2 linked regions of the Homo sapiens genome follow. The protein of the gene in region 2 interacts with the protein of the main gene of each other region in a pairwise test. Each region holds a gene or a part of one and is shown on either strand. Other genes may lie near its edges.

Region 1 (4,324 bases), on a different chromosome or scaffold from region 2:
AATATTTTCAGTGACTTACATCATCAATACCATCATCATCATGATGGAGATCATGGATCATCCTAACTACCCTCTACCCCACCAACACCTTTTGATGAATGATATGGTTTGGTAGTGTCCCCACCCAAATCTCAACTTGAATTGTATCTCCCAGAATTCCCATGTGTTGTGGGAGGGACCCAGTGGGGTAACTGTATCATGGGGGCCAGTCTTTCCTGTGCTATTCTCATGATAGTGAATAAGTCTCATGAGATCTGATGGGTTTCTCAGGGGTTCTGCTTTTGCTTCTTCCTAATTTTCTCTTGCCACCACCATGAAAGAAGTGCCTTTTGCCTCCCACCATAATTCTGAGGCCTCCCCAGCCATATGGAACTGTAAGTCCAATTAAACCTCTTTTCTTCCCGGTCTCGGGGATATCTTTATCAGCAGCGTGAAAATGGACTAATACAGTAAATTGGTACCAAGAGTGGGGTTTTTGCGAGAGTGCCAGCTATCCCGAGGGAAACTTTGGAGGGAACCAGCTACTAGATGGTTCAATTAGTCTTTCGCCCCTACACCCAGGTTGGATGACCGATTTGCACATCAGGACTGCTACGGACCTCCACCAGAGTTTCCTCTGGCTTTGCCCTGCCCAGGCAGAGTTCACCACCTTTCAGGTCCTAACATTTGTGCTCATGCCCCACCTTCCCAGTGCAGAAAACAAGATGGGCCGGTGGAAAGCTGACCTGGCTACTGCCACCGCAGAGTGCCCAATTTGCCAGCAGCAGAAACCAACACTGCGCCTTTGATATGGCACTATTCCTCAGGGTGATCAGCCAGCTACTTGGTGGCAGGTTGATTATGTTGGACTTCTTCCATTGTGAAAAGGGCAGATGTTTGTCTTTACTGGAATAAACACTTACTCTGGATATGGGTTTGCCTATCCTGCATGCAATGGTTCTGCCAAGACTACCATCCGCGGACTCATGGAATGCCTTATCCACTGTCATGGTATTCCACACAGCATTGCCTCTGACCAAGGCATTCACTTTATGGCTAAAGAAGTGCAGCAGTGGGCTCATGCTCATGGAATTCACTGGTCTTACCATGTTCCCCAACATCCTGAAGCAGAACGGTGGAATGGCCTTTTGCAGTCACAATTACAATGCCAACTAGGTGAGAATACTTTGCAGGGTTGGGGCAAAGTTCTCAAGAAGGCTGTGTATGCTCTGAATCAGCGTCCAATATGTGGTACTGTTTCTCCCATAGCCAGGATTCACAGGTCCAGGAATCAAGGGGTGGAAATGGAAGTGGTACCACTCACCATCACCCCTAGTGATCCACTAGCAAAATGTTTGCTTCCTGTTCCCGCAACATTAAGTTCTGCTGGCCTAGAGGTCTTAGTTCCAGAGGGAGGAACGCTGCCACCAGAAGACACAACAACAATTCCATTAAACTGGTAGTTAAGATTGCCACCAGGACACTTTGGGTTCCTACCTTTAAGTAAACAGGCTAAGAAAGGCGTTACAGTGTTGGCTGGGACATCAAGGCTATCAAGACCCAGGCTATCAAGATGAAATCAGTCTACTACTCCAGAACGGAGGTAAGAAAGAGTATTCATGGAATACAGGAGATCCATTAGGGCGTCTCTTAGTATTACCATGCCCTGTGATTAAGGTCAATGGGCAACTACAACAGCCCAATCCAGGCGGGACTACAAATGGTCCCGCCTGGATGAATGAAGGTTTGGGCCTCTCCATCAGGAAAAAAAAAAACACAACCTGCTGAGGTGTTTGCTGAAGGCAAAAGGAATACAAAATGGGTAGAAGAAGGTAGTCATCAATACCAGCTACTACCATGTGACCAGCTGCAGAAATGAGGACTGTAATTGTCCTCAGTATTTCCTCCTTCTTTTATTAAAAACATGTCTGTGCTTGCACACACTTGTACTAAGAAAATATCTTCATTTTATTTCCTTTCTCCTTTATCATGTGACATAAGATTTATTGACTTCACATCAGCATTTAAGTATCGTTAACTTTATGTAAGAGTGTTTCAGTTGGGGACTGGTGTGTTTCCGGATGTACGAAGAATAGTTGTACTACATCAGGTGTAATTATGACCTAATTATTGTCTTTATTTGAAGATTATGTGTGATCTCAGGAGATGTGTATGGGTTCAAGTTGACAAGGGGTAGATTTGTGGTGGTTAAAACTGAGTGTGTCAACTTGATTGAATTGAAGGATACAAAGTATTGATCTTGGGTGTGTCTGTGAAGGTGTTGCCAAAGGAGATTAACATTTGAGTCAGTGGGCTGGGGAAGGCAGACCCACCCTTAATCTGGATGGACACCATTTGATCATCTGTCAGCAAATATAAAGCAGGCAGAAAAACATGAAAAAGCGAGACTGGCCTAGCCTCCCAGCCTACATCTTTTTCCCGTGCTGGATGTTTCCTGCCCTCAAATATCGAACCCCAAGTTCTTCGGTTTTGGAACTCAAGACTGGCTCTCCTTGCTCCTCAGCCTGCAGACAGCCTATTGTGGGACCTCGTGATCATGTGAATTAATACTTAACAAACTCTCCTTTATATATATATAAAGATTGCCAATATATATATATTAAGATTGCCACCAAGACACTTTGGGTTGGAATATATATACATACATATATATTCCATTAGTTCCATCCCTCTAGAGAACCCTAATACAATGAAAAATTAATATAACAGTATTCTACACTAACTGATCCAGTATAGTCTTCTGAGTACATTTTTCACTTTTTTGCTTATTGCATTTATAGAACTCTTGGTTTAGTGCTTAAAGCAGGAGAAAAAATGAAGAATGTTCCTCCTTTTCTCATCTAATTTAATAAACACTTTTGAATAAAGCTCAGACCCACCTAGAAAAACCCACAATCTATTCAGGTGAGATATGTGTAAAAAAAATTACAATAAAATGTGATACATAAAACTAATAAAACTTAGAGACCATTTGCCTAAAGGAATCATGAAAGGGTCACTAAGACACAGTTTTAAATAACATTGGACAATCACCAGTTGTAGAAAAGGGCATTCCAGGCAAAAGGGTGTGTAACTGTATGGAAGCAATAATAAGTACAACATTTTCAGGAAATAAGGAGAATTTGGTGTGACTAGGCCTAGATGCTTGTGGGGAGGCCAGGCTATAAAAAGATGTAAAGTCTAGGCTGTAGAGAGCTATGGAAGTCATGTAAAAGAGTTTGCAGTTTATTCTGCGGATGATGAAAAAATATTAGACATTGTAAGCAGGTGAGATTGTTAGAATATTTGCATTTATAATCAAAGATGTAGTAATATCATGGGTGAATGAGATGGGGAGAGAATAAAGGCAAGAAAACGTATTCAGAAACTACTTCAGAAGCCCAGGTGAGAGATAACATGGCCTTCAGCTACAGGGTAGCAGAGGAAATGGGAGGAATAGACAGGTGAAAGGCAACTCAGAGGTTGGCTTGGGTGACTGAGTTGAAATGAGGTCAGAACAAGGGACAGGGAGTTTCTAGCGTGGGTATTTGGGATGTACATGGTTGCTACGTATTTCTGTCAACAAGGTGAGCTGAAAGTACCTGTAGAATATCTCCAAGGAGAACATACAAAGGATAGCTAGAAACATGAGCCTGAATGTCAGGGTTGGGTGGAGCTAAGGGAATGATGGTGAGATTCATCAGCAAGCTAATGAAGACAGTGGCAGTGGAGGCGAATACAGACAGTGAAATTCCCTAGGGAGAGCTGTGATGTGGCTCAAAAGAGGGCGAAAAACAGTGCTCCAGGGAGCACAAACATTTAATGGATAAGAACAAGGTAATGAAGAAGCAAAAGGAACAGGGTTCAGAAAACCAGAAAAGCCAGTGCCCTGAATGTCTAGGGAGGGAGATTTCTAAAAGCAAATAGTCAATAACATCAGCAACTTTTCCTCTGGTGACAGTGTACTTATTTCTTTTAGTGAAGTAAACTCTGATTCCCCATCCTGGTGTACATATTTTTTTTTTTGAGACAGGGTCTCACTCTGTCACCCAGGCTAGAGTGCAGTGGTGCGATCATAGCTCACTGCAGCCTCAAACTCCTGGGCTCAAGCAATTCTTCCACTTCAGCCTCCCAAGTAGTTAGGACTACAGGTGCACACCACCACACATGACTAATTTTGTTTTATTTTTATTCTTGTTTTTTTGTAGAGATGGGGTCTTGCTATGTTTCCCAGGCTGGTCTCAAACCTCTAGCCTCAAGTGATCCTCCTGCCTTGGCCTGCCAAAATGCTGGGATTGCAAGCGTACGCCACCGCACCTGGCCCTGACATATATACTTTAAGCAG
Region 2 (5,149 bases):
CGTCGCCCGCGAAATGGAAGCCGTCATCAGTGGCAAACACCAGCAGCCGCGTGACGTTGCGCCAGCCGATTTCCTCCTGAGAAGAAGGCGTGGGGGGCAGGGTTACCTGCCTCAGTTTCCCAGACCCGGCCCTCTGGAGCAGAGGAGACGATGCAGAGCTGGTGGGGTGGCCCGGAGGCTGGTGTGGGTCCCCCTTTCCCCTGGGTCTCAGGGACCCAGCTGTGTTCCCCCAGACGCCACGCCCAGGAGGAGACAACGGCCCTCAAACACCCCGTGCACATGTGAGGCGCAGGGAGTGGAGGCACGTGTGGAAAGGCAAGGAGAGAGACACGGCTGCGGTCCCTGCACTTCAGAGCTGGGAACAAACCCTCAGGAAACCATCCCCAAGGGGAAAAACCCTCGCAGACGTGTGGGCCACACGCAGAACGAGTGCAACATGGAGGAAAACGAGCCTGAGGGGCCCAGCAGGCCTTGAGTCCACCATTGACAGCCCCTGGCAGGCGCATGTGGGGGCCGTGCGTGTCCTAGGCTGTGACCTCACACTCGTGAGCAGTGTGTCTGCGCTGGGACTGCAGGGAAGCAGGAGAGCTAAGGTGGGTTGTGAGGGGAGGACAGTGCATGTGGCCTCAACATGGCCCAGGGACTGTGGCTGCTCTGTTAGGCTGACAGTCACAAACTGGGTGGGCGGGACGTGGAGAGCGACACACACTGGGCAGCCAGCGCCCACCCGGCCTGGAGGGAGGAGGGTGGTTCCACCCCAGGAACCACGGGACCTGCTGCCTAGCGGCCCTGTTCCACCCTTGGCCGCTCGCAAAATGTTTAGGCTTCATAAGGTTTGCCCAGGGTCACAAATTTAACTCACAGCAAACAATGAAATCAGCGCATGATTTTCGAGCCCTCGTGGTCACCCTCCCTTCCTCCTGCCCTTTCCTGCATGGGCAGCAGCAGGGTGAGGAGCTGCTCTCCCCAGGCCCAGGCTGGAGTCCCTCAGACGACCTGCCGGCCAGGGTACCCCCCTGCCCCCACACAGCGCCTGACAGAGCCCCCCACACTGGGGGAACGTGGGGACCCAAGCAGGGGCAGCGGCCTCACCGGGCAGGCGGCGACCTGCATCATGGCGTCCAGCCCACCCTCGGGTGCATCCAGGTTTCCGGAAATCAGCTGCTTCCCGACCTCGGTCTGAAACTGGTTGGAGTTGTTGGTCAGCTTCAGCACGTGCCTGAAGGCAAACGGGGGCTGGCACTCTTTCTCCTTGTTGGGGCATGGGTTTCGCAGCTTATCAGGGTGCGTGTTCACGAACGGCAGCACGGTCTTGTCCACGAAGGACCCGAAGCCTGCAGGGCACATGGAGGGGCTGGGGAGGTGGCAGGCTGGGCCCAGGTGGGAGGGCCAGCTTCAAAGGGGCACGAGGGCAAGCCTGTTTCCTCTCTCCTAGCAGGGAGGTGGAGAAAGCAAGATGGCACATGTGGAGTGTGTGTGTGAGCATGTGCGTTGTGCAAGCACACATGTGAACGTATGTGGGCGTGTGTGTGAACCTGGGAGTGTGCAATGTACATGGATGAGCATAAGTGTATGCATGTGTGTTCCTGCATGTATGTGTGTGACCAGGTATACATGTGGGCATGTGAACAGGTGCGTATGTGTATCTGTGTGTGCAGCCATCTGCATGTGTAAACATGAGTGTGTACATGCGTAGCACAACTGTGTGTGCACGTATTCCTGTATGCATGTGAGCATGTTCAGGTATGGACACACCTAGTTCACGTAGGTGACCAGGTACATATGTGGGCATGTGTGTTTATGTACGATTTATACATGTGAGTGAAGACATACATGGGTGATCATGAGTGTGCATGTGAGCATGTCTGTGTGCACATGTGGTCTTGCACGTGTGTATGACTGTGTGTGCATGTGTGTGCACATGCAAGTGTGAGCATGCATTCATGTGTGTGAGCATGCATTTGTGTGTGAGCGTGCATTCACGTGTGTGAGCGTGCATTTGTGCATGTGAGCATACATTCGCGTGTGTGAGCATGCATTTGCGTGTGAGCATACATTCATGTGTGAGCATACATTCACATGTGAGAGCATGCATTTGTGTGTTTGAGCATGTGTGTGAGCATACATTCACGTGTGTGAGCATGCATTCACGTGTGTGTGCATTTGAGTTTGGGTGTGCTTTTGTGTGTGAGCATGCATTCGCGTGTGTGAGCATCCATTTGTGCATGTGAGGATACATTCATGTGTGAGTGTGCATTCGCATGTGTGAGCGTGCATTTGCGTTTGAGCATGCATTTGTGTGTGAGTGTGCATTGCATGTGTGAACATGCATTTGTGTGTGAGCGTGCATTCACGTGCATGAGCGTGCATTTGTGTGTGAGCGTGCATTTGTGTGAGCATGCATTTGCTTGTGTGTGTGTGTGTTATCGTGCATGTGTGCATCCCCGCATGTAGGGAAGGTGGCAGAGTGCCGATGTGAGAAGCCACGGCCGGCGGGGAAGACATGCGCTGTGACTGACACACACGTGTGCTGGAGACCTGCTCTGTGGCAAGGCAGTGCTGGTGTAGAGCGGAGCCCTTGGCCCAGCAGAGCTTGCTGTGTGGTTTCTTCAGTGCTGCCGTCGCTGTGCCGTCTATATGTGTTGTGGTCTTTAATGTTTAATAATTGGCACTGTCAGAATTTTGTCTTTTAAACATACCAAGAAATAAATAAAGGAAGTAGAAGATGGAAGGGGAAGTGGAGGGCTGGACAATGTCTACAAGTGTTGGGGAGCCAGGGACTGGGTGTGGCCCCTGGCAGGGAGGCAGGCCGACTGCAGCCCTGTGGATGCCCTGGGGGGACCTGCATCTGGGGCCCCCAGATCTACCCTGGGGACCTGAGTGCGAGGAGTTGTGTGGGCCACAGGCAGGAGTGGCCAGGGTCTGGGAAAGGACTGGGTTTTGTCCTGCAGTGCCTGGGCCTCACCAATGCGGCCGGACTCGGTGATCTCGTTGAGGGCCCGGAGCAGGTCGCCACCTAGCTTCTTGACATTCCTGAGGTCATCAAGCATGGAGTAGGAGAGGTCCATCAGATAGTACAGGTCGATGGGGTAGCCCTTGGCCCGCCGGAAGGTCACGTTGAACGCTGCTGCCTGGCCTGCCGGTGGGGACAGAACAAAAGGAGCCACACCTCACATCTCACACAGGGTGTCTGGGGGCGTGTGGCCCCGAGCGGGCTGTGCACTGGCACCCTCTCCTCCAGCCCCCAAATCCTCCTGACCTCCCCTCTCCCCGCCTGGCAGGAGAGCTGAGGACCAGACACAGGACATCCAGGCAGGCTGGAGTTTCAGAGGAAGGACATGACTCCCGGACGCAGGCATGTGCCTCGCAGTGACACTGAAACCCGCCTGGGGTGCTTAGAGTTGACGCCAGCGACATTGGGGACGCCTTTCATTGAGAGTGGCAGCGGCTCACCTGGGCTCACACCTAACCCGGCCCCATGCCTGCAGTCCCACGGGCGCCCTCATCAGCAGCCACATAGACAGGCATCACACGAACCTGGCACTTCCCAGCAAGGCCCACGCGGGCCGTCCCCAGGAGGCCCCTTTCTCCATCCCAGCCCTGGACTTCCGCTCGCCCGCGTCTCAGTCACACGTGCGGTTGTGTAGCTGTCTGTTTACCTGTCACCGCAACCAGCCTGTGTCCCTGGCTCCCAGAACCGTGCCTGGTACAAGTCAGCTCTCCATAAACACACATCATGTTAATGAATGAGCAGGGAGGGAGGGTGACGAAGCCTGTCCCCTCTGCCCCACCCTCCAGCCTTCAGCCCCCCTGGGCGGCAGGACAAGTGCAGAGCCCACTCCACCCCCAACCTGCCTGCTGCCACACCCTGGGAGAAAGGGTATGTGCCCCTCCTCACAGACACACACACACGCACTCCTACACATAAATACACCACATGCACACACAGTCACACATGGCATACACACCCACATATATGCACACACACAATACTCACACACAAATATAACTCATGCACACACAGTCACACGTAGCACACACGCACCCACATATACACGCACATGGCACCCACACACAGCAAACACACCACAAATATGCACACACACCACAAACACCAACCACCACACATGCACGCATACACACACACCTCACACTCATACACAACACCAGACACAAAGCACACATACTATATGTACTTGTTCATATACACAAACACACCACATGCACGCACACACACTCGCACACACATACACACACCAAACACACACACATGCACTCACGCACATACACCACACACATGCACTCACATACACATGCATGCCACACACATATACACATGCCACACACATGCATTCACACCCATACACACACGTGCCACACATATACACACACCCCACACAATGCTAAACACATACATACCACACACACCATGCATACACACACACCACACACACATGCGCTCACACACACACACACTCACCCACATTCACACCCGGCACTCCTGGCCCTGGCCCTCGCCCTGCTGTGCCTTGCAGCCCTCAGAGGCTTCACTTGGCCTCTGGGCCAAGGACCCCAATCACTTTCTATGAAGGGCCAGACAGTAAATGTGTTTGGCTTTGGGGGCCGTGCGGCGTCTGCAGCGACATGGAGGAGGCAGCCAAGACCATGTCCCCACGAGCAATGTGGCCATGCTGCAGTCAAAGGGCACAGACATAGGCCTTTGGTGGCTGACCAAGGGGCCCCGTCCCTTCCCTTCCAGAGTAGAGGCTCAGCGAAGGGCCAGCAGGCTGCGGGGGTAGGGCCAGGACCCCGCGAGAGGACAGTCCCTTCCCAGATCCTGCCGCCCTGCTCTGGGAGCCTGTGGCCCTGGGGTGCTGTTAAGATCTCTCCCTGGTGCTCACCCGAGTTTGCCTACCCTCACCTGCATCCACCCGAGCTCACCTGTGCCCTCCCAGAGGCCACAGCATTTGCCCCCTGCACAGTGGGGATGCATGCCAGGCCGTGGGCAGCCACTCCCCCACCCTTCCCCACGGCACAAGGATGCCCCCACTCAGGCGCACCCCCACCCTCCAGGACGATCCTTCCTGACACCTCCAGCACCACAGAGCTGCACAAACTCTGGCCACAGGCAACACCTCTGTCAGCCTCA

The links. Proteins that work in one complex are often made in the same cells at the same time.
Region 1: the proteins of ITGB2 (region 2) and NOTCH2NLC interact in binary tests that used the Homo sapiens proteins (3 or more experiments, as listed by UniProt).

What each region holds. Positions count from the first base shown.
Region 1 is NC_000001.11:149,455,797-149,460,120, reverse strand, and holds part of NOTCH2NLC (notch homolog 2 N-terminal-like protein C), read right to left. Parts: intron 1-4,324. UniProt on the Homo sapiens protein: Human-specific protein that promotes neural progenitor proliferation and evolutionary expansion of the brain neocortex by regulating the Notch signaling pathway.
Region 2 is NC_000021.9:44,900,400-44,905,548, forward strand, and holds part of ITGB2 (integrin beta-2 isoform 1 precursor), read right to left. Parts: intron 3,137-5,149; coding exon 2,966-3,136; intron 1,335-2,965; coding exon 1,093-1,334; intron 77-1,092; coding exon 1-76.